Linked DNA regions of Homo sapiens: regions 1, 2, 4, 5 and 6 are each linked to region 3. The links come from fine-mapping of genetic effects on gene expression. A gene starts in region 3. Each other region holds a variant in brackets. All regions are shown on one strand. Distances are from middle to middle. Region 1 overlaps TMCO1 (transmembrane and coiled-coil domains 1). Region 2 has its middle 16 kb from the start of MGST3. Region 3 holds the start of ALDH9A1 (aldehyde dehydrogenase 9 family member A1). Region 4 overlaps TMCO1 (transmembrane and coiled-coil domains 1). Region 5 holds the start of UCK2 (uridine-cytidine kinase 2). Region 6 overlaps MGST3 (microsomal glutathione S-transferase 3).

The links.
Region 1: its variant is fine-mapped to the expression of ALDH9A1 in whole blood (TOPMed, PIP above 0.99).
Region 2: its variant is fine-mapped to the expression of ALDH9A1 in whole blood (INTERVAL, PIP above 0.99). The same link has a PIP of 0.9 or more in prostate.
Region 4: its variant is fine-mapped to the expression of ALDH9A1 in whole blood (INTERVAL, PIP above 0.99).
Region 5: its variant is fine-mapped to the expression of ALDH9A1 in whole blood (TOPMed, PIP above 0.99).
Region 6: its variant is fine-mapped to the expression of ALDH9A1 in whole blood (INTERVAL, PIP above 0.99).

The regions. Positions count from the first base shown.
Region 1 is chr1:165,754,291-165,758,290 of GRCh38, reverse strand. All of the region lies in intron 3 of TMCO1 (transmembrane and coiled-coil domains 1), which reads left to right. Among named protein-coding and RNA genes, the nearest start is that of TMCO1, 13 kb to the left of the region's middle. The variant C/T (reference allele first, on the strand shown) is at 2,382.
Region 2 is chr1:165,612,661-165,616,810 of GRCh38, reverse strand. No RefSeq gene overlaps it. Among named protein-coding and RNA genes, the nearest start is that of MGST3, 16 kb to the left of the region's middle. The variant T/C (reference allele first, on the strand shown) is at 1,958.
Region 3 is chr1:165,695,985-165,700,134 of GRCh38, reverse strand. It overlaps ALDH9A1 (aldehyde dehydrogenase 9 family member A1), which reads left to right and starts at 1,573. Exons shown (of 11, transcript NM_000696.4): 1 at 1,573-1,757. The coding sequence starts at 1,577. It also overlaps the pseudogene CA14P1. RefSeq lists enhancers at 1,138-1,317, 1,182-1,764, 1,608-1,837 and a silencer at 1,388-1,577.
Region 4 is chr1:165,761,612-165,765,611 of GRCh38, reverse strand. All of the region lies in intron 2 of TMCO1 (transmembrane and coiled-coil domains 1), which reads left to right. Among named protein-coding and RNA genes, the nearest start is that of TMCO1, 5.3 kb to the left of the region's middle. The variant G/C (reference allele first, on the strand shown) is at 2,489.
Region 5 is chr1:165,827,344-165,831,493 of GRCh38, reverse strand. It overlaps UCK2 (uridine-cytidine kinase 2), which reads right to left and starts at 3,880. Exons shown (of 7, transcript NM_012474.5): 1 at 3,562-3,880. The coding sequence starts at 3,660. RefSeq lists silencers at 2,992-3,221, 3,282-3,761, 3,842-4,091 and an enhancer at 2,973-3,526. The variant A/G (reference allele first, on the strand shown) is at 2,331.
Region 6 is chr1:165,648,294-165,652,376 of GRCh38, reverse strand. It overlaps MGST3 (microsomal glutathione S-transferase 3), which reads right to left. Exons shown (of 6, transcript NM_004528.4): 2 at 2,413-2,536; 3 at 1,290-1,363; 4 at 342-399. The coding sequence starts at 2,529. Among named protein-coding and RNA genes, the nearest start is that of MGST3, 19 kb to the right of the region's middle. RefSeq lists an enhancer at 764-1,963. The variant A/G (reference allele first, on the strand shown) is at 1,902.

The sequences.
Region 1 (4,000 bases), 58 kb before region 3:
GCCACTATGCCGGCCAAGAGTCTTGAGGAACAGAAATTTAAGGAACAACAGAAGAAGTAAAGTTCTGAAAAAGTATTGCCAGATAAGTTGGAAAGTAGTAGTGTCACAGAAGTTGAGAGGAGAGTGTCAGGGAGGAGGAAGGGCCTGATGATGATGGTAAATGTCTAAGAAATGGAGGTTATTAGTGCTTCTAGCAAAAATGGTTTCAGTGGCATGATGGGGGACAGAAGCCAGATCATATAGATGAAGAAGAGAATGCAGACATTGAGAATGCAGACAGTGAGAAAATGAAGACATTCAACATGGACAACTCTTTCAAGTACCTTTGCTATAAAGAATAGGAAGGATATAAAAATGGAAGGCAGATTATCCTCTGTCCTTAAATTGGCAACACGGTGTATCTGAATTCAAATGATCTTAACATGGAGTGTAACCTTGAATTGTTTGCTCACCCCAGAAAAACTCATCAGAAGTTATAAGAAATAATATTTATTGCCAGGCATGGTGGCTCACGCTTGTAATCCCAGCACTTTGGGAAACCAAGACGGGTGGGTCACCTGAGGTCAGGAGTTCAAGACTAGCCTGACCAACATGGCGAAACCCCGTCTCTACTAAAAATACAAAAATTAACCAGGCGTGGTGGTGCATGCCTATAATCCCAGCTACTTGGGAGGCTGAGGCAGGAGAATCCACTTGAATCTGGGAGGTGGAGGTTGTAGTGCGCCGAGATCGCGCCATTGTACTCCAGACTGGGCAACAAGAGCAAAACTTTGTCGCAAAAAAGGAAGTAGTATTTATGAAGAGTTGCTTATCAAAATCTTATTAGAAATTATGAGATGTAATATTTATGAAGAATTGCTTGAAAGATGATCTATCCATTCTCTAGATTTGTACATTTTAATCTTAGATTAAGCCAGACTATCAGAAATCTGTAAACCTAAACTGGATTATTTTGGACTTCATAAAACGCTTTTACTGTATTTCGCCTTGGCATTTGCATTGTTAGGCTTATTATGAAAAATTCAGCCAGGTATAATACAATTTGTTATAGTACTACTATGGAATATATTCAAAAACATCCACAACATTACACAATTGTCTTTTGATAAGAAATTGTGGAAACTGTTTCTATTAGTTTTCAATATCAGGAAAAGTAGCAGTTCTCATAAGTAATTGATTTATTTTATCTTACGGACACTGTGCTCGAACTGATTTTTGTTTTCCTTTGAATCGGCTGCTGATAAGCCTGGAATGAGACTTGCTCATTCTCATGCAAGAAAATCATGAGATTTGCTCATTTGGTGTTCATCTCCAGCAACTTTATAGGACCAATTAAATGTATTTTTATGTACTGATCCTATATAGTTTCATTATTATCTAACCCTTACTTTTTCTTAGCCCAGATTCCTCACTTGAGCTTATTTACAAATATATACTATATTTGTATATATAGTATATATTTGTAAATATATATATAGTATCTGGGGAAAAGGGAGTATAAAGAGTAAAGCCACTGCACTGAAAGAAGGGAGTTTTCAGTAAGAGGGAAGCAGCCAGCAATATTCAGTGTTCCGGAGAAGCAAAATGTCATTGATTTCACTAGGTGAAGCTCTTTGATAACAATCCTTGAGAGAACCATTAATCTGCAGTGGAAGCGTCCTTTGCTTTTTAACTGAAGATTTGATGTTCCCAATTCTTAATTTCAGGAGCAAATGTTTTGACTATTTTGCATTTCCCTCTTATAAGAAGAAAAATGAATTTACTTTTGGTATATGAATTTTATATAGTTTGTTTTGTTGTATTCCAAATAAAGAAGTCATAAGGGGTTTATTTGAAGGATATACGTGATGAGAAACTCAGGCAAAGCTGAACTAAGTGGTTACAGGAAGGCAGGAACCGTGGTAAAGCAAGTCCTGCAAGCAGAGCAAGTCTTGAGAAAAAGCTGGACAGGGATCTTCACTGTAAGACTTCACTAATTTTTTTGGCATTCAGCTTTTGTCTTCACCTAACCTTCCCTGTGTCCTTCCCCACTCCCAACCCCTTAGGAATATCTGCTCCAGATGCTTGTGTCCTTGGGTTCTATCTCAGTATTTTCATAATGTGATCCATAGATTACCTACATCAATATTGCTTGAGATACTTGTGAAAAATGAAGGGTTCTAAGTATTACTCCCAGACTTTACTGAATCAGGATCTCTGGATGTGGGACCCAGGAGTCTACTTTTTTCTTTTTTTTTTTTTTTAAACAAGCTGCCCATATAATTCTTAGGCAAATTAAAGTTTCAGAGCCAGTACCATATTATAACTTTTCTATTTCTGTTCCCATAGTTAATTGATTTATTTTCCCAAAATTTTCTAGCATAAATTCCTGAGAGAGGAAT[C/T]TAATTGGCCCAGCTGATCTTTTTATGTCATAGGTCATGGGAGAGCCTATGGTTTGGCTGCCTCTTGGGTCAGCAGTAGTAGGACAGAGGGTGTTATAAATCTTCATGAGGCTAACCCTTCAACAAGGTATGGTGCCAGGCAGATGTCCCCAGAAGGTGGATGGGAAAGGGAGAGCAGACATTCTGAAGCTTGTCTGAGTGGGATAAGTATCTCTTTTCTTTTTTTGTTTTGTTTTGCTTTTGTTTTTGTTTTTGAAGCAAGGTTACCCTCTGTCAGCCCAGGCTGAAGTATAGTGGCATGTTCATGGCTCACCACAACCCCAACTCCTCTTGCCTCAGCCTCCTTGAATAGCTCAGACTACAGGCATATACCACCATGCCTGGCTAATTTTAAGTTTTTTGTAGAGATGGGGTCTCTCTGTGTTGCCCTTGAACTCCTGGACTCAAGCAATCCTCCTACCTCAGCCTCCCAAAGAGCTGGGATTACAGGTGTGGGCTACCACACATGGCCTCTTTTCTTCATGACTTGGATTTAAATATGAGAGGAAATTTTTGAAATTTAATATATTTGGGGCCCTGAATTTATACACTCATTCTAGGCCTTTTTCTATGTTATTTGGATTGGCTGAAGGTCTACTGACTCTGTGGTCAGAATGGATGTCATCATTGCTACTAGTTTATTCCAATAGCCACAAGAAATGTAGCCTCCATTTTTGGAGTATTCCTTTTCTGAATTTTAATTTTCCCTTTTGCTAGTCACCTTGGAAAAGAAATCATTCTAAATATAAATGTATCTTTTGCATATTTCCAGATTATTCTCTCCATGAAATTTTGTCAAATTTCATAGATGTTGTATTCTAAAGGTTCACTACTTAGAGAATGCGTAGTTTTTTGTTTTTGTTTTTGTTTTTGTTTTCAGACAGAGTCTCACCCTATCGCCCAGGCTGGAGCACAGTGACGCGTTCATGGCCCACTGCAGCCTCAAACTCCTGGGCTCAAGTAATCCTCCCACTGTAGCCTCCCAAGTAGCTGGGACTACAGGGGCACACCATCACGGTTGGCTAATTTGTAAATTTTTTGCAGAGACAGGGTCTTGCTATGTTGCCCAGGATGGTCTTGAACTCCTGGCCTCAAGTGATCTTCTCACCTCAGCCTCCCAAAGAGCTGGGATTGCCCAGCTAGAACCTGAATTTTAAGTTCATCCTATCAACTGGCTTATAATTTTAGACTATATGCCATTTTAGAGAAATTGAAAAAATAGAAAATTTAAGAGAAGGATAACTAATTTGAGACATCTAAGTACAATCATTATGTTATACTTACAAATTAACTGATTGGCAATTCCCTTTGGTGTAACATAAGCATATATATTAATGTACAGAGTTAAGACATTTAATACCAGAGGTAATTTCAAAAAAACACTAAAGATTTATTTATTTAAATTGAAATATTTTGGTGCTCTGCTGCATTTGAATCTTCTGAGTACAAAACGTATACTATCCCAGGTGTTTTCATCATCTTATTAAATGATATTGAGATAGAGTGCTTTTGTAATCACCAATCAGTGACAGTTTATTTAACAGCTGCTTTGTGCTCAGCATTGTATGTATTAACCATCT
Region 2 (4,150 bases), 83 kb after region 3:
TCCATGCAAGTCTCTGCCCAAATGCCACCATCTCAGAAAGGCCTTTCCTGATCAGTCCTTCTAAAATAGGCAAGCAATTGGTCACTATCTCCTTCCCTTGCTTTATTTCTCTTCAGACCACTTACTATCTAATCTTTTGTTATAATGTATTCACTTACTGTGTCACTCCTCCATTATAAAGTAATATCCCTCCAGGAAAAAAACTTCACCTTTATTTTCCCAGGGCCTATGGCAAATTTAACATCTGATAAGTGTCAAATAAATATTTGTTTAATAAAGGAAAGAACAAGTATCTGAGCAAGCTGCTGTGATTTGCCAAGCTGTTTGATTTGGCTTCTCCTTTGTGAATGAGTGGAGTCTTAGCATCACTTCTGCCTCCTCTGATGCTGAGCTGTTTTGCAACAGCTGAGCTGTTTGCTCAGGTAGTGTTATGAGCACACCTTATGTCCAATGTCTCCTCAGCAAAGATCTGCTCGCCTCAGCTCTGACTCTGCCCATTCACTGACATTCTCCTGTCAAATTCCCTGGTCCCTGAGCAAAAGACATGGAGGGCAAGGGAATGGTATGGCAGGGCCAAACACTTCACACAGCTTTTCAGATAAAAAGCTCTCTAGGACCTCCCTGTTTAAGCACTTCAGGTTAAAAGTTGTAAATTAAAAGAGAACAATGACTGCCTGTGCTCTATTATTTTTCTAAGTCAAGTATGGCTGTGCTTTATTTATATTCTAATTTAAGAGATATATCTTTTCACCTTTTTTTTTTTTTAGACAGAGTATCACTCTGTCCCCCAGGCTGGAGTGCAGTGGCACAATCTTGGCTCACTGCAACCTCTGACTCCCGGGTTCAAGTGATTCTTGTGCTTTAGCCTGGATCCTCACCTCTAACCTTATATAAAAACCAACTCAAGATGGATCAAAGACTTAAAATCTAAGACCTGAAACCATAAAGATTCTAGGAGATAACATCTGAAAAACCCTTCTAGACATTGGCTTAGGCAAAGACTTCATGACCAAGAACCCAAAAGCAATGCAACTAAAACAAAGATAAATAGATGGAACTTAATTAAACGAAAAAGCTTCTGCATAGAAAAAAAAAATCAGCAGAGTAAACAGACAACCCAAGAGTAGGAGAAAATTTTCACGATTTATTCATCTGACAGAGGACTAATATCTAGAATCTACAAGAAATTCAAACAAATTAGCAAGAAAAAAAAATTTCTTCCAAAAGTGGGCTAAAAGACATGAATAGATAATTCTCAAAATAGTTATATACAAATTTATTTTATATACAAATGGCCAAAAACATGAAAAAATGCTCACCATCATTAATTATCAGAAAAATGCAAATCAAAGCCACAATGCGATATTATCTTACTCCTGCAAGAATGGCCATAATTTAAAAAATAAAAAAAAATAGATGTTAGTGTGGATGTAGTGAAAAGGCAACACTTTTACGCTACTGGTGGGAATGTAAACTAGTACAACCACTATGGAAAACAGTGTGGAGTTTTTTTAAAGAATTAAAAGTAGATCTATTGTTTGATCCAGCAATCCCACTACTGAGTATCTACCAAGAGGAATAGAAGTCATATTATGAAAAAGACACTTGAACATGCATGTTTATAGCAGCACAATTCACAATTGCAAAAATATGAAACCAGCCCAAATGCCCATCAATCAACAAGTGAATAAAGAAAATGTGGTATATATATACCATGGAATACTACTCAGCCATAAAAAGGAAAAAAATAATGGCATTCGCAGCAACCTGGATGGAGTTGCAGACTGTTAATTCTAAGTGAAGTAACTCAGAAATGGAAAACCAAACATCGTATGTTCTCACTTATAAGCAGGAACTAAGCTAGTAGGCCAAAAACGCATAAGAATAATGTAATACAATGGACTTTGGGGACTTGAGGGGAAGCATAGGAGGGGGGTGAGGGATAAAAGATTACACA[T/C]TGGGTACAGTGTACACTGCTCAGGTGATGGGTGCACTAAAATCCCAGAAATCATCACTGAAGTACACATTCAGGTAACCAAACACCACCTGTTCTCCCAAAACCTATTGAAATAAAAAATATATATTTTATAAGTTTCCTGCTAATGGTCAGTTTAGAGTTTTTTCTGTCTTTCTTAAAATTTTTTTGCAATTACAAAAACTGTAATGAAACTAACCTCATAGATTATCTTGGCAAACTTAAATTTTTTTAAACATTTTATTTTAGATTCGTGGAGTACATGTGCATGTTTATTACATGAATATACTGCATACTGGTGGGCTTCTAGTGTACCCATGACCCAAATAGGGAACATCGTATCCAATAGGAAATTTCTCAACCCTCTCCCCCGCTCCCCCTTCCCTCTTTTGGAATCCTCAGTGTCTATTATTTCCATCTTTTTGTCCATGTGTACCCATTGTTTAGTTCCTGCTTACAAGTGAGAACATGTGGTATTTTATTTTCTATTCCTGCATTATTAGTTCACTTAGGATAATGACCTTCAGCTCCATCCATGTTGCTGCAAAGGACATAATCTTGTTCTTTTTTATGGCTGCTTGGCAAACTTCTGTGAATCTATCCATAGTATATCTCTCTTTTAGTGGGAAAGCTGGACCAAAGGGGCTGTAAATATGATAGCTGCTGCCAAATATTCTTCCCCAAGATTCCATCAGTTTATTTCCCAAAAGCCTGCTTCCTCATGTCATCAACAACATTGGCTATAATCAAACTTAAAAATGTTTGCTAATCTCACAGATATTTCACTTTTTGTCTTGATTTGTACTTATCTAAGTTTATTTATTTGTTTTTCATGACTGTAACTTTTTTTGAAAACTGCCAGTTCTTATCTTTTGCCCATTTTTATATTGGGTTGTCATTTTTTCTTATTAACTTATATAGACTTTTTATAAATTAAAGAAATTAGGCTTTTGCTATCATATATATTGCAAATATCTTTTTTTAATTTGACACTGGTTTTTAGACTTTGTTTAGGCTACTTTTATTTCATACTTAAAAAATTTTATGTATTCACATTTACCAGTTTTTTACTTTATGATCTTTAGATTTTATATCCTTCTTGGTAAGGTTTTCATCTTCACTCATGCTTTCTTTTTGAAATTTTATGGTTTATTTTATGTTCAACTCCTTAATATATGTTAAATCTTTGATAATTTAAGTTTAAATCTTTGGGTCTTTTTAGACACAGGGTCTCACTCTGTTGCCCAAGCTGGAATGCAGTGATGGTATTATAGCTCACTCACTGCAGCCTCAAATTCCTGGGCTCAAGTGATCCTCCTGCCTTAGCCTCCAGAGTAGCTGGGACTACAGGTGCACACCACCACACTTGACTAATTAAAAGCAATTTTTTTAGGGATGGGGTCTTGCTATGTTGCTCCTGGGCTCAAGCAATCCTTAGCCTCCCAAAGAGCTGGGATTACAAAGCCTGAGCTCCCACACCTGGCATATGTTTAGTTTTTGAGGCACCAAAAGGACAGAATGCAGGAGGAATCTAGCCTTTCCCCTTAACAATTTGTCAATGAATTCATGTTTATCCTCTTTGTTTAAAATGTAGCCTTTACCATGAACTAAAATGCTCTAGGCATTTGGTTTAATTTTGGACTCTCCACTTTGTTTTACTGATGTCTATTTTTTTCTATAGGAACTGTTTTACATTTTGCTCACTGCTTGGACTTAAAAAAGCAAAAACATCTTTTTTCCTTAATCATAAAGTCAAAGCCACACATAGGCACAAAGAATGCAAGCACCGGAAGCACACCTTAGCAAGGGACTGTGGGAGATGGATTAATGTGTGGCCATCTGGTACACACGATAATGGGTTGTTGGGGCCAGGGGTACATAGGTATAATATTCTTGTGGATTCTTGATGGGAAGAAATGATCTGTATAAACATAGCAATGGAAAGTTAGGCAAGCAATATATATTAGGGCCAATATCTTGGGGCAAATTCTAGTTTCATTCAAAATAGTAGTGTACCTAGTAACTAGTTGATTATTTAAGTAACTAGTTCTTTATTTAAGGAGTTACAGTGCAATCAAGCTGGTGTTTAGTGGCTATAGACAGGAGATGAAAAGTGGTCTACTTCAGAGAGGAAGGAGAACCAGTATAGTAAATTTCTGGCTGTCTTATATCCCC
Region 3 (4,150 bases):
ATGTGAGTGTGGCCTCAGGTATTCTGAGTTTGGGCACTGCTGTTTCCATCTGAGGACCAAGACCTACACATCTCAGTAGCACTGAAAAAGTGAACAAACTGGTATAGAGTGCCAGAAAACTTGATCAGAATACATTATATATACTCTAAACCTGAAAACCACACTCCCTAATATTGCGCTGGTGAGCTGGCAGGTAAAGGAAAAAACATTGAGAAAGACAGCAGCCCCCAGAAGAGAAACAATCCTAAAAGAAATGTCCAAATTGCCAATTACTTTCTGTTTGTCAAAGTCTCTACTGGAGGTGCATGGAAGTTTGGTGAGAAGAATGAACCTTTGTGCAAGATCCCTCAGCTGACAGACCTGTGAGTGCCTCTGGGTGGCTGCTTTGTCTTACAGAAGGCATTTTGTTTCCTGACACTTTTTCCTGTGGCCTTTGCTCTTCGTATTCTGTATGTTAGGCTTCTGTTTCTATCAATATTTGTCATTAATAGCATTTACATTGCTCCTTCAGAATTTATTTATTTTGAGACAGGGTCTCGCTCTGTTGCCCAGGCCTGAGTGCAGTGGCACGATTATAGCTCACTGCAAGCTTGGACCCCCGGGGCTCAGGGGATCCTCCCACCTTAGCCGCCCAAGTACCTGGGGCCACAGGCGTGTGCCACCACACCTGGATAATTTTTTTTTTTTCTGAGTTTCACTCTTGTCACCCAGACTGGAGTGCAATGGCATAGTCTCGGCTCACTGCAACCCGTCTCCCGGGTTCAAGCGATTTTCCCACCTCAGCCTCCCAAGTAGCTGGGATTACAGGCGCCCGCCACCACACCCAGCTAATTTTTGTATTTTTAGTAGAGACGGGGTTTTACCATTTTGGTCAGGCTGGTCTCGAACTCCTGACCTCAGGTGATCTGCCCGCCTTGGCCTCCCAAAGTGCTAGGATTACAGGCGTGAGCCACCGCGCCCGGCCCAATTTTTATTATTTTTATTTTATTTTTTTATAGACACGGGATCTCTCTCTGTTGCCCGCAAACTCCTGGGCTCAAGCGATCCTCCAGCCTTGGTGAGAGCCACAGCGCCCAGTCTCTCTTTAAGAATTTAAAAAGCAGTTTCAGATCACAATATCATCTATCTCGTTCACAGTCCCCTTGCTTTTTACTGTCACCCTTTAAAAAGCATTATACAATTACAGAAACGGTGGTTTAGCAGTGAAGTAACCACCAAAGACTCTTGGCACTCCAATCCTCTGCCTTCTTCAGGCGATAGGATTAAGAATGGGATCCTAGGATGCTTACATGCAATGATGAACCCGAAAACACTTGCAAAGTGCTACGCAAATATTGATCACGAAGAAGGAAGTCCTCTTCCCGCCTGGAGACTGTGTGGGGTATGGCGGGGTGGTGGGGAGAATGTGGTGTCTTGCTCCACCCTCCTGGCGAGGGGAGGGCCTGGCCTGGACCGCAGAGGAATCGAGTGACTGCCCCTAAAATCTCCTAGAACCGATCCCGCGGCCCCGCCCCTCCCGCGGCCCCGCCCCTCCCGCGGCCCGTCAGCCTCTGCCGCGGAGCTGCGTCCGCCACTCATGTTTCTCCGAGCAGGCCTGGCCGCGCTCTCCCCGCTTCTTCGCAGTCTTCGGCCCTCTCCTGTCGCCGCCATGAGCACTGGCACCTTCGTCGTGTCGCAGCCGCTCAATTACCGCGGCGGGGCCCGCGTGGAGCCGGCGGACGCCTCCGGTACCGAGAAAGCTTTCGAGCCAGCAACCGGTAACTGCAACGAGCCGGGGAGGCTGGGGCGCCCTGGGGCCGGATGCGCGGATTTCCCGGCCAGCCCCCGTTTCCTGTGTTCTGCAGCGTTGACTTGAGCACAAGACAGTGACAGTGGAGAGTCTAAGGTTGTGTGTGTAGGCAACTAGCGATTCTGGGGCAACGCGAGTGCCTCCGGGCAGGGATGGGTAGGGAGGAAAAGCAAAGCTGATGAGTTGCGTGGTAGGATCGTGAGTTGTTTTACCCGGGCCAGAACAGAGTTCGCAAAGTACTGGTGGGGGAAGTCGTGCCTCTGTTAACTTCCTTTTTTGTTTGTTTTGTTTGTTTGTTTGTTTTTTGTTTGTTTTGAGACAGGGTCTCACTCTGTCGCCCAGGCTGGAGTGCAGGGGCACCATCTCAGAGCTCACTGCGCCCTCTACCTTACGGGCTCAAGTGCTTCTCCCGCCTCAGCCTCCCTGGTAGCTGGGATTACAGGCTCCCACCACCATGTCCGGCTAATTTTTGTATTTTTAGTAGAGACGGGTTTTCAGCATGTTACTCAGGCTGGTCTCGAACTCCTGAGCTTAGGTGATCCTCCCGCCTCAGCCTCCCAAAGTGCTGGGATTACAGCCGTGAGCCACCAAGCCCAGCCAACTGTTCCCCCTTTTAAAACCAGGACTGATGTATTATTGTCTTCAAATGTGTGCATAGGAGAGGAATTCTAAAAGAACGGGGCGGGGTTGTGGGGAAGATAATCATTTGTGCTGGGAATGAAGGAACGCTCACAGATAGTTTCTAATGACTACGAATGAGGACTTTGTCTCCACATTCTAATATTAAAATATTTCTGCACATTAATCAGAATTGGGAAAGGAAAAAACCCCACCTTTATTCAGTACTTTCTTCCCCAGCTTTATTGAAGTATAATTAACAAATAAAAATTGTATATACTTAAGGTGTAAAACGTGTTGTAATGTATGTATACCTTGCAAAATGGTTACCACGGTCAATCTAATTATCCATTGCTTCTGCATAGTTAATGGCTTTTTTTGGATAGTGAAATATTTAAGATCTATTCTTTTAGCAAATTTCAAGTATATGATGCAGTATTGGTAACCATAGTCACCATGGTCTACGTGAGCTCTCCACAATTTATTCATCTTGCTGAAATAAAACTTTTTAATCCAGTGCTTAATGTGTGCTAAGCACTGTGCTAGGCACTGGATTTACTCTGGGAACTCTGAAGGTCACAGAGATAAGGAAGAAGGGGCTTTTTGTTTTGGTTTTGTGTTGTGTTTATTTTGCTGGGTTTTATGGAATATATGTGGGGAGAAAAATGTAAATATTTTGTGTAAAATGTAGCCAGAGCAATAAAACTGATTTGCAGGGGACTGGAGAATTTAGTATTTGACCATCCACACTAAACCACAGAGCAGTGACTTGGCAGAGCCAGAAGGCATTATCACATCTCTTCTTTATATAGGAGGAAACAGCTTCTCTACCCCGACTTAATCCTGATACAAAAGAAAGAAAAATTGCTCTTTGCTTTAATTGCCTACAGTGTGTGTGATCCTCAGCCACCGCCTTTACCAGCTGGCTATTCAAGTTTGTAACAGAAATTGCAGATTTGTGAAATCTCCCTGGAAAGAGTCCCAGGAGTTCTTGTGAAGAGGATTTGCTGAGTTGGCAAACTTAAAGAATTCTTGTTGGTAGAGGCAGTACAGTCCTTGGGCTATGGGCCTAGAAAAACTGATTGTTTCATAATTTGCACCAGAATAGGGAGAGGGAATAAAGGTGGAATAAGAAAAGGAAATCTGGGAATTTTTGAGAAAAAAAAAATGTTCCTTTAGGGTTGCCTTATCCTGATATTACTGCTTATTAACTATATTTATCAAGTATCAAGTAGTATGATATAACCTACATAGAATATAGACAAGGGATTTACAGTCAGAGTTTATAACCCAATAGACTGATTACTTTTGACTTTCATTTTACAAGACCCCTGAGATTCTGAGATAATGTTTAGGAGTGTTGCAAAACTTAATCAGAAGTTAATGTTAGTAAACTCAACTGTAAAATAGTAGAGGGCAGGGGTTCTTAACTCTAAATCCTTGATGAGTTTAGGGCAGGGGACATGACATTCCTGTAATTCTGTTATATGTTTAAGTAGATTTTTCTGGAGAGAGGTCTGCAACTTTTATCAGACTCCTAATGTCAATGACCGCAAAATACAGTTAAGAACTGCTAGGCCGGGTGTGGTGGCTCATGGCTGTAATCCCAGCACTTGGGGAGGCAGAGGTGGGTGAATCACTTGAGGTCAGGAATGTAAGACCAGCCTGGCCAACATGATGAAATCCCGTCTCTACTAAAAATACAAAAATTAGCTGTGTGTGGTGGCAGGCGCCTGTAATCCC
Region 4 (4,000 bases), 66 kb before region 3:
TTAAGTTGACCACTCTATTTAAAACTGCAAGGCAGGGCGCGGTGGCTCAGGCCTGTAATCCCAGCACTTTGGGAGGCTGAGGTGGGTGGATCACGAGGTCAGGCCTTCGAGACCAGCCTGACCAACATAGTGAAACCCCGTCTCCACTAAAAATACAAAAATTAGCTGGGCGTGGTGGCACATGCCTGTAATCCCAGCTACCTGGGAGGCTGAGGCAGGAGAATTGCTTCAACCTGGGAGGCGGAAGTTGCAGTGAGCCGAGATTGCATCACTGCACTCCAGCTTGGCCAACAGTGCAAGACTCTTGTCTCAAAAAAAATAAAAATAAAATAAAACTGCAACCTGCCCATCTCCCCTACTCCTAATATTCCTTACCCTGTTCTATTTTTTCTGTTGCTTTTATTACTTTCTAATATACTGTATGATTTACTTATTTATCATGTTATTGCTTATTGTGTATTTCTACCTGCTAGAATGAAAACTCCACTAGGGCACGGTTCTTTGTTGTTGTTTACCTATGTATCCTGTTTACCTAGAACACTGACTGGCACATAGTAAATGTTTAACAAACATTTGTTGACTTGAATGCTTTCTTCTTTTGCCCCATATATGCAGTCCATTACCAAGCCCTATTGTTGTTTTCCTGAATAGTTTTCAGATCATTTCACATCTCTTCATTTCTCCCATCACCACCTAGTCTAAACTTCTATTATATTTCATTTAATCTGCTGCAGTAACCTCCTCTCTGGTCCATCTGCAGCCACTCAAATTTGCCCCCTATAATGCATCTAGGGTAATTTTTTAAAACACAAATCTGATTATGTTACTTGTCTTTCTTAAAACCTTTCAATTTCTTCACATTGCTTTAGGATAAACATGTGGCCTGTAAGGTCCAGCACAGCACAGTACCACCCTCCCTTCTCCTGGCTACATCTTGTATCATATTCTCTCTTGCTCCCTATTCTCTATTCATTCATGCCTTTTTTCTGTCCTCTGGGCTAGTCTTATGGTTTCCTACTACAGGCACTTTGTATCTGTTGTTCCTCCTACCTGCGATAAGTTTCCCTTCTCATTTTGTTTAGTAAACTCCTACTCATTCTTCAGATCTCAAAGCCTTATCCAGTCTCCCAGACAGGGCCAAATCTTCCTATCATAGTTTATGATTTATCCACATACCTCTCCTTAGAGTGGTTGTCACAACTGCAGTTTTACCTATATATGATTATGGTCATCAGGGTAATGTCTCTCTCCTCAACAAAACTGTAATTGCTATGAGGACAAAGGCCATTGTATCCACAGTACCTAATGCAGTGCCTGGCACATATTAGATACTTGATAAATGTGTATTTAATAAATTATCTGTGTAGCATAACATCACATATATTCTTTGTGAAAAATTGTTCTGCTATGATCCTATGCTAGTTGGCAGCATGCAATGGCATCCCTGTATACATTTCTTCATGTCATTTATATCATTGAGTAGTTTTATGAAATACAAAACAAATTTAGCTTCAAATTGGTTTGAATATTCTTATACCTTAAATATTTATATAATATGGATTTGCCTTATAGATTTTGAGCTTCACTGGTATCTACAATATTGCCTTGTCTTTAATTATTTACTTTATAGAAATAAATGAAAAGTCTCCTTTACTGTACACTGCAATTCAAAGTAATACAGTTGAGGCCAGGTGCAGTGGCTTACGCCTGTAATCCCAACACTTTGGGAGGCTGAGGCAGGTAGATTGTTTGAGCTCAGGAGTTCAAGACCAGCCTGGGCAACATGGCAAAACCCCATCTCTACAAAATGTACAAAAAATTAGCCTGACATGGTGGCATGTGTGTGTGGTCCCAACTACTTGGGAGGCTGAGGTGGGAGGATTGCTTGAGCTCAGGAGGCGGGGTTTGCAGTGAGCAGAGAGGGGAGATTGGGCCACTGCATTCCAGCCTAGGTGACAGAGTTGAGACCCAATCTCTAACAAAAATGAAACAAAGTAATACATTTGCCAGTTTACACATCTGTAGTTGCAATTTTACTATAATTTCTTCATATGCTTCCTTTGAAGGTAAGTATGAGGTAGGTTGATGATTGGAATGACTCATGGCATTTCTTGTGGTCTTAGGTCCTCTACTCTGGATAATCTACCAAAACTCAGTAAACGTGTATTATTTTTATTTATGTGATCAGTCGACTTATTTGATTGCTTGCTATGTGTTTAGTTTACTGTAGTAAGTACAATATGAAATGAGCGGCCACAAATTCTGTCTTCTGGAATGTATAATCAAATGCACAACTATTATATTTAGCATGAGGAATATTAAAAAGGAAAAATATAAGGTAAATTTCCTCTTTGAACAAATGTCTTAATTGCAAATACAGAATTCCTTCTGATACTTTGTATTCAGAACGTAGTATGAATTTAAGCAAGGGAAGTTTGTAGGGTTTTTGAAGAATATCAAAAATATAAAGAGGTTTGAATCAGAATTT[G/C]ATACAGGTTACTTTGCTTGTGCTGATCTGGTCCTTGGCATTTTTAGAAGAATACTGTTGTCCAAAAAGCAGTCCTACTGAGCTGCTTTTAACAAAAGGAAATGCTTTCTTAAAGGTAGTGAGTTGGTTGACTCAGGTGGTCACTGGGCTTATAGATGTATTCTAAATATCAGTAGGTCTTCTTTTATTGTGTTACTATTATAATATATACTAATGAAAGGATACTTCAATAAATGAAAAAGATTAAAATACAGTATATATAACTTGATTCTTGTAACACAGTTGTTTATTTGAGAGCACTTACTAAGTATAAATTGCTGTGAAGTATGAGGTATTTCTGTTGTTTACGGTAAAATAGGATAAATCTTTTAGAATAATTTATAAACTGTTTGGCAGAACTCTGGAATTTAGAATGCAGGAATACAGATCATGGACAGAAATGTGTTTCATAGTAGACATCTTTTATTTTTGTCAACTCTGACATTTCTACTTCTTGTTGTCAGGTGAGATTCTGATGAATAAATATCCACACACCAAGGTTTCATCACAACCTCATGAAGTTTGAAAAACATTAGATTAATTTATCCCTAAAAACAATTTATCTAGTCTCAATCTGGTCTTCTAGAAGACCAGACTAATGTTTATGGAATTGTCTTATGTTTCTATTCTCTAGCCTTCTGTCTTTTTATTGCCCTGTTTTCTATGCAGTCATGGTTAAATGCCAAGTAGTTGTGTTATAGTCCTTCTGGGGTGGGAAAGAAATATTTTTGTTTCTTTGTTTAATAACAATGATAAAGAACAAAACATTAAGTGTTTTCTGTCCATTTTGTCTTTTAAAATGTTATCCTTATAACATTTTAATAAAAATGTTATCCTTATAACATTTTAATAAAAATGTTATCCTTATAACATTTTAATAAAAATGTTATCCTTATAACATTTTAATAAAAATGTTATCCTTATAACATTTTAATAAAAATGTTATCCTTATAACATTTTAATAAAAATGTTATCCTTATAACATTTTAATAAAAATGTTATCCTTATAACATTTTAATAAAAATGTTATCCTTATAACATTTTAATAAAAATGTTATCCTTATAACATTTTAATAAAAATGTTATCCTTATAACATTTTAATAAAAATGTTTATTATTTATTTATTTATTTTTTTGAGACAGGGTTTCACTCTGTCACCCAGGTTGGAGTGCAGTGGCCCAATCATGGCTCACTGCAGTCTTGACTTCCTGGGCTTCCATGATCCTCTCATCTCAGCCTCCTGAGTAGCTGGGACCACAGGAGTGCACCACCATGGCCGGCTGATTTTTGTAGTTTTGGTAGAGACGAGGTTTCACCGTGTTGCCCATGCTGATCTCGAACTCCTGAACTGAAATGATCTTCCCATCTTGGCCTCTCAGAGTGCTGGGCTTACAGAACTGAGCCACTGCACCCGACATAAAATGTTATTTTTATAACATTTTAAAATGTGAAATTTGACATTTTTCTTTTAT
Region 5 (4,150 bases), 130 kb before region 3:
ACAGATATGTATGCAGGCAAAGAAGTTTAGCCTGGGTTTTTTTCCACCTTTTAGTGTTATTACACCTGTCCTTTAGGGGGAAATATGAAAATCTGGTTTGGTTTGCTTTTGAGATGGGGTCTTGCTACGTTGCCCAGTCTGGAGTACAGTGGCACCATCAAAGCTCACTGCAGCCTCCAAGTCCTAGGCTCAAGCCATCCTCCTGCCTCAGCCTCCTGAGAAGCTGGTGGCACATACATGGCTAATTTTTAATTTTTCGTAGAGACGGGGTCTCTCTCTGTTGCCCAGGCTGGTTTTGAAGGCATCCTCCTTCCTTGGCCTCCCAAAGTGCTGGGACTAGAGGTGTGAGCCACCGTACTCAGCCATAACCTTTTTTGGTTTTTGTTCGAGACAGGTCTTGCTCTGTCACCCAGGCTGGAGTGTAGTGGCACAATCACAGCTCACTGCAGCCTCGACCTCCCATACTCAAGCATTCCTCCCACCTCAGCCTCTAGACCTGCAGCACTGCACCTGGATAATTTTATTATTTGTAGAGAACAAGTCTCACCATGTTGCCCAAGCTGAGAATCTGGTTTTAAACATAGGTCAAAATAACTTTCTCGACCCACCACAATTTTCATTTTATACAGATGGGGTCTCACTATGTTGCCCAGGCTGGCCTCAAACTCCCGGGCTCAAGCAATCCTCCTGTCTCTGCCTCCCAAAATGCTAGGATTACAGGTGTGAGCCACCAGGCCCAGTCTTGGACTTTTTTAATAACAAAAATATCAATAATCTTAAAGGATGACAAACTATCAATCATTCGTATGTCAAAAATGTACAAACAAGCTTGGGCAACATGGTGACCTAGTCTCTACAAAAAATAAAGATTGCCGGCGTGGTGGCGCACACCTGTAATCCCAGCACTTTGGGAGGCCGAGGCGGGCGGATCACAAGGTCAGGAGATTGAGACCATCCTGGCTAACACAGTGAAACTCCGTGTTTACTGAAAATACAAAAACATTGGCCAGGCGTGGTGGCGGGCACCTGTAGTCCCAGCTACTTGGGAGGCTGAGGCAGAAGAATGGCATGAACCCGGGAGGCGGAGCTTGCAGTGAGCCGAGATCATGCCACTGCACTCCAGCCTGGGCAACAGAGCAAGACTCTGTCTCAAAAAAAAAAAATAATAAAAAAAATAAAGATTAAAAAGCCAGCCCAGGTAGTGGCTCACACCTGTAATCCCAGCACTTTGGGAGGCAGAGGCGGGCGGATCACTTAAGTCTAGGCATTTGAGATCAGCCTGGCAACATGGCAAAACCCCTTCTCTACAAAAAAAAAAAAATTAGTCGGGCATGATGGTGCAAGCCTGTAGTCTCAGCTACTCTGGAGGCTGAAGTGGGAGGATCACTTGAGCCCAACAGGTGGAGGGTACAGTAAGCCAAGATCTCACCACGGCACTCCAGCCTGGGCAAAAGAGTGAGACCCTGTCTCAAAAACAAAACAAATCAAACAAACAAAAAAATTAGCCAGTCATGATAGTGCCAGCCTGTACTCCCAGTTACTCCAGGTTGAGGCTGAGGCTGCAGTGAGCTGTGACAGTGCCACTTACTCTGGGCTAGGTGGAAATGCGAGACCTTGTCTCAAAAATTAAATTAATAAATAAAAATGTACAACATGCTTTGAAAACTGCAGAAAAACGGACCCTTCCTTTCTTGAGAGTTTCTACACTCTTCCTCCTGGATAAAAATAGCAGAGAATTAGCTACTCCCACATTGGCTCACCACTATCCCATCCCTCACTTTACCCAAGTAACACCAAAAGCTTGATTATCAAGTTAGAACAGGTGACGACTGAGAAACACACAAGAAGAACAATAACAGAGTTATTCACCTTTTAGGGTCGCAGTTTTCACCCTCGTGGTAACTAAATTATTCAGATGATTACCAAGATCATTTTGTTTCTAAAAGCTCATATGCAAGTTTAAGCCTCCTCCCCACTTTAGGAGGACTGGACTTCAGCTTAAAATTTGGACCCCACTACATGCCAGGCAGGCATTGTGCTAGGAGGGCTGGGAAAACAGCCATGAACAACAACAACAAAAAATGCTCCCAATCCAACAGGAATATGCCAGAAGAGCAAGAATAATTCTAAAAGAACAGGTAAAGCTTCCTGAAGGGCTAGCATTCTGGTTTTGCTTTGAATTACTAGTATAAGTCATAGTAAAGAACATACTCAAAAATTACAAATTTTTTTAAAAGCCTTCAACCAGGGAGCACACAGAACAGAAACTTCAGGACCTAAAGCAGGCCGATTCCTAACCCCGGGAGCTACGGACGAGATCAACTTCATCA[A/G]TAAAGAAGTCCAGCAGCGCCAGCCGCCGTGTCTGGCTGGGCTCCTTGCGCTAAAGTAGTCCAGACCAGGAGGGAAAAATGTAAAACCAACATGGAGGAGGGGCTACTGACGAGTCGGTTCGGGAGCTAAAACCTCGTGGCTCTTTCCTCATGGCGCCAACCAGCCTTCCTGCTCTGCTCTCCCCAGCCGGGAGAAGCATCATCCTGCCTCTCCAAACCAGCACCCAGCACCCAGCTCTCAGGATCCCTTGAGGAACCCGTGCTCCAAATGAAGTTGGAGGGTGTTAAACGGTGGGAAAAACAAGTAGCCACATCTTAAAGGCTGTTAGGGGAGCAAAGAAAGAACCATCTGGGAGGACTCCACCCTTCTCCACCTGCAGAAAAAACCCCGGGTAAAGCTAGGAAGTCATTTCCCTTGTCTCTCCTTGCCTTGCGGATAAAACAAAGGAAACAGGCTCCTAAGAGGGTCAGACACCCATACGATGACCCCCTTCCGTGGATCCAAGACGCGTACGTCCTGGACACCGAAGAGCTTGGAGCCAGTACAACTTTCTCATTGAAGCCGACCACGTTTCCTCTTATAACCTTAAAAAACAGAAGCCCCTACTATTATCGTTTCATTGATGTCACGGCACCTATTTGGCTCTCAGACTTTTACCCGGAAACCCCTGTAATCCCCAGCCCTTGCGTGCAGCCCCACACTGGGCTCCCCTTCCCCGGGATGCCGCCTCGCGCGTTCCCGCCACCCTCGCCCTCTCGGCCGCGCTTCCCGGCTCGCTCCGCCCTCGGCACCAGGCTGCGCCGCGGGGCGAGCACGTCTGTGCCAGACCGGGGCTTGAGGGAGTCCATCGGGGGTTAGTGGGGGATCCTGCGGAAAGCCCTCTCCCCCGACACTGGAGTTGCAAAACAATAAGCATCCGCTTCCCTGCCCTTCCCCCATAGGACCCCGGCCACGAGTTATTAACGCGGGGGGAGAAAAGCCGGAGGAGCACTCCCGCCCTGCGATCGTGGCCGCGTACCCCCGGAACCCCCAAGGCCCGAGTCTTCGCCTGCCCCCGCCGCAGCGCCCCCAGGCCGCGCGGGGCGCACTCGGCGCTGGAGCGCGGCCGGGAGCGGAGGCGCGCGGGCCACGCGGTGGCTGCCGCAACTGACACGGCCCGCGGCCGCCGGCCACATGCGCCGCCCAGGGACAGAAGCCGGGAAGGGAGCGCGGCTCCGGGCCCCGCCGTACCTTGCCGCTAGCTGTTCCCCCGCTGACGCCTATAAGGAAGGGCTCGCCGCCGTTGGGCTGCTGGTGGTTCTGCAGGGTCTGCTCGCTGTCCCCGGCCATGGTTCGCGCCGCCCCTCCTCCCGCTGCCTGTGCGAACGGACGCACGCTCCCCGCCCGCGCCCGCGTCGGACTCCCTCCGCTTTCCGCAGCCGCCGCTGGGCGCTGCCGGGGCTGAGGCCGCTGTCGCTCGCCTGCGAGCCGCTCGGAGCCCGGTGACGGGGCTGGGTTTCCCGAAGGAGCCAAGAGCCTTCCTTTGCCCGCAGCGGCTGGTCCGGTTTACATCCCAGGCAGAGGTCAGCGTGATGCTGCTGCTCCAATCCGGGCGGGCAGCGCGCTGCTATTCGCCGAGGCGGAGGCGGCGAGGCGTCTGGCCCCAGCCTCCGCCCCTCCCGGGCCCCGCCGCCGCCCGAGGTCTCTGCGAAAGGTGTGAGCCCGACCTTCCCTCCCACCCGCCCGGTTAACCCTTTCTCCGACGCGCCCTAGTGGACCCTGGGGGAAAGAAACAGGCTGTTCTGTATTTTAATTTGGTATGCTACCACCTATTTTCAGA
Region 6 (4,083 bases), 48 kb after region 3:
AAGTTTGTTGTGTGAATGAATTACTATAACAAATGAACTCTTATAGACATGAAACTTAGAACCAGACAGACCTGAGTTCAAATTCTAATCCTTCTACTCTGTAGCTATTTGACCTTGTGAAGTTTAAATAGTATATGAGAGGCTTTTCCTTATCTGTAAAATATGAGGAAAATCCCATCTCCTTTAAAGAACTCTGTAAGAAATAATTGAATAAAATCCTTTTAAATATGCAGTGCCTAGACACTGAAGATATTCATTAAATGTTTATTTCCTTCTTCTGTCCCTGATAATAGCTCAGTGAACTACTATCCAAATAGATGAACACCTCCTGGAAAACTTACCGGGTGGTAAACACCTCCAACAGCTAGAAAAAATAAGAAGGGAGGATACACTTCCAACCTGGAATTGACAGAAAGAAACTTTTAAAAAGTGCCCTTTTTAAGTATGCCTGTGTAGAATTATGAATTTTTTTTTTTTTTTTTTTGAGACGGAGTGTCTCTGTCACCCAGGCTGGAATGCAGTGGCATGATCTCAGCTCACTGCAACCTCCGCCTCCCGGGTTCAAGTAATTCTCATGCCTCAGCTTCCTGAGTAGCTGGGATTACAGGTGCGTGCCACCATGCCTGGCTAAGTTTTGTAGAGATGGGGTTTTGCCATGTTGACCAAGCTTGTCTCCAACTCCTGACCTCAAGTGATCCACCCACCTCGGCCTCCCAAAGTGCTGGGATTACAGGTGTGAGCCCACCTCACCCAGCCAGCACTATGAATCTTTACATCTTCCTTGCCAAGTTAGAAGCTTGGGGGTAAAAATAAACATTCACCGCAGGGAGAAGACCTGGTCACTATCATCCACCCTCCTTTGCTCTGCATGGGATTAGAGGTCACTTGGAACATGCTGAGTAAAAGGACCTCACATCTAACAAATGGAAGTGGAAGGTCCTGGTGAGTCAGAGTGGGTTTCCTTACAGCATTCAAAACCTCTTCACTCCCTAGGCCTGGGAGAGTCAACATCGGTTTAGATGGGTCATGCTGCAAAACTGTAGTAGGTAATGCAACCATGAAGACATTTTTTGAAAAGAATATCCCGAAATCCCACCATTCCAACCACTCTTAAGTTTGCTTAATAGTCAATGTGTTCACATACATAATTTTTGAATACTTTTAATGAGGTGCCCATGATTGTCACCATCACTATGACTCAGCAAATACAGCGCACTAAGGGCTGAGGTGTTAGACAGAAAACACCCACTCTGCAGATGTCTTTGGTGCCCGGCAGGGCCGACACTCACGTGTTCTGGTGGGCTCGCTGAATGCAGTTGAAGATGTGCCCATTTTCAGGGTCCGTGCTGTACATGATAGGATACTGTCACAACAAAGCACATACTGATCAGATGGTCAAGAGGAGCATTCAGTGTTGAAAGTTAAAATGAACCTTAAAAACAATATATTCCAAAGTATCTTCTTTCACACCCTTGATAGATGACCATTCAATTTCTGCTTAAATATTTATGGTGACAAGGGTCTCAATTCTCAGAAGCAGAGTCAATGTTTCTATTAAATATCCAGGAATAAGAATGTATGTCTGCGCTGTAGTTGCACAAGGGAAAGAGGCAGCTTTGCGCCAAACTCCGTGCTTTTCATTGACGTTAAGCATCAATGGTGGATTTCAGATGCATTACAAAGATACTGTAGGGAAATAGAGCCTTCCTAAGAGTCATCAAATACCACATCCTTTTAAGATTTCCCTTAATAGAAGAACAGAAATTGAGTGTGTGAGAATCTTAATGGAAGTGTCCACTGGAAGGGAAAAAAAAGAAGAAACTAAATATAAAAACTTAAAAGAAGCTCTAGTAAGGGAGTTTAATTATTAAGTTGCTAAACAGAAACAGACATTTAAAACC[A/G]CTCACCAGGGACAACTTTGGTAATTATCCCTTCTAGATCACCTAAAACTAAAGGAAGTGTTTAATAGACCACCTTCCTATGTCTAAGTCCAGGCTAATCTCAACACCACATACCTCTTTTCTACTTGGAAAACAGGAAAATCACCATAAGACATCATTTTTAAAGTGGCACACCATGAAACAATATTGCTATTTAACCCTCTGTGGAAAATACAGTAACTCTCTTCCTAGCAAATAGCTCCAAGCAGAAGTGTACTATTGGAATCCCAGCATTCCTGGTCTTTCTACCGAAGAGACAAAGTCAAACAAGATGGAAACTACTCCCTAGCAGGGCCCTGTATTTCTTGCCTCTTTCCTACCATGAAGAAGCAGAATCGCTAACACAGTCCTGAAACTGCCACTTCTCACAACTAGCTCCTTGCCTCTCCCTCCATGGCTGAAAATAAGTTCTTGGCTAAGCCTGTGGCCCCCAGACAAGCCTACAAGGGCACCAGCTTGTGTTCCCACTTACCTCCACTTTGTACTTCTTGCGGGCCTTGGAAACATTGATGGCTAGGTGGGCCACCATTATAAAGCTGGCAGCACCAGTTAGAAGCACAAAACCATATTCCTTAGAGAGGACAGCCATCTTGCGTCTGTGGAAGAAAGAACACGTTGGGACGGCCCCCAGCACTGTGGCTATTTCATGGTGTGAAGCCTTAGGGAGCAAGATGCTTTATTACTGGCAAATGAGTAAATAGAGACCAAAAAAAGGTATGAATCAATCTGATGTTTCTGAGAAGTCATCAAAGACAGTACCATATAAAATAATTTAAAAATTACTCAACTATGCAGTCTATACACAGAAAAGTATACAGTCATGTATCTTTTTTTCTCTTTTGTGCCTGGGAGATTCTGATCAACATTATGAGATTTATCTACACCACTGCAGTAGTCGTTGCTGTAGAATAATATAGCCAACAAAAATCACATTATTGAAAAAATATTTAACATGGTAAAATGCTAAAGTATACATTACATAGGGAGGGGGAGGGAGGGAGTGAGAGGAGCAGGACATGGTGGGGAGAGGGATGGAGAGGGAGAGAGAGGGAGTGGGGAGGGAGGAGAGGGAGAGAGAGAGAGAGAGAAAGCAAGAAAGTGAGAAAGCAAGAAAGCGAGCATCCAAAATAGTATATGCACAGTGATTCCAAGTTTTTTGCCTTCAGACATGGGGGACACTGTGAGGGCAGGACTCTGAGGCCTCCCTTCGATCCTGGGGCACGTGCGGGTGCAGCAGCAGACATCTCACACAGGTAGGGGAAGGCCCAGGTTGAGTACTCTGAAAGCAGAGCATGGCTCCTGAGCCTATGAGGCTTTGGGCAGCTCCTGAGGAACTCAGATTGCCCATCAAATCATCACTTCAAAGGCTTCCACGAGCCAGCAGCTCTGGTGTGTGTTCTGCCGTCAGCTTTAAAATTTCCATCCCTGGTAATTGCCTGGCTTCAGTCCCTGCTTTTAACCTAGGAGAGTTACCCTGATCTGGAATGTATCTAATCATCCTAACAAACCAACCAACAAGATGGTAAATCCTTATTTTCAAAAGAGGTTAAGTAATGTTTCCAAGGTCTAAAACAGACAGTGACAGACCTGGGATTCCCATTCAGATTCATTTGGTTCCAATATTCCCTTTCAGTATCCCTTGAAACTTTAGAGCCAAACTGACACTGTGGTCAGAGCATCTTCCTTAAAACAGAATTTGGGATAGGCATGCAGCTCAGTTCATTAAAAGTAAGTTTCTCTTAGCACAGCAAAATAGGCCTAACTGCTTTTTTTTTTTTGAGATGGAGTTTCACTCTTGTCGCCCGGGCTGGAGTGCAGTGGCACGATCTCGGCTCACTGCAACCTCCATCTCCCGGGTTCAAGTGATTCTCCTGCCTCAGCCTCCCAAGTAGCTGGGATTACAGATGCGCACCACCACACCCAGCTAATTTTTGTATTTTTAGTAGAAACGAGGTTTTGCCATGTTGGCCAGGCTATTCTTGAACTCCTGAGCTCAGATGATCCACCCACCTCGGCCTCCCAAAGTGCTGGGATTACAGGTGTGAGCCACCGCACCCAGCCTAACAGGCCTAACTTCTTAAAACCCCTCCTCCCCACCATGATTCACAATAATTCTCATCAGTTTTCCCCTTCTACCGTCTTC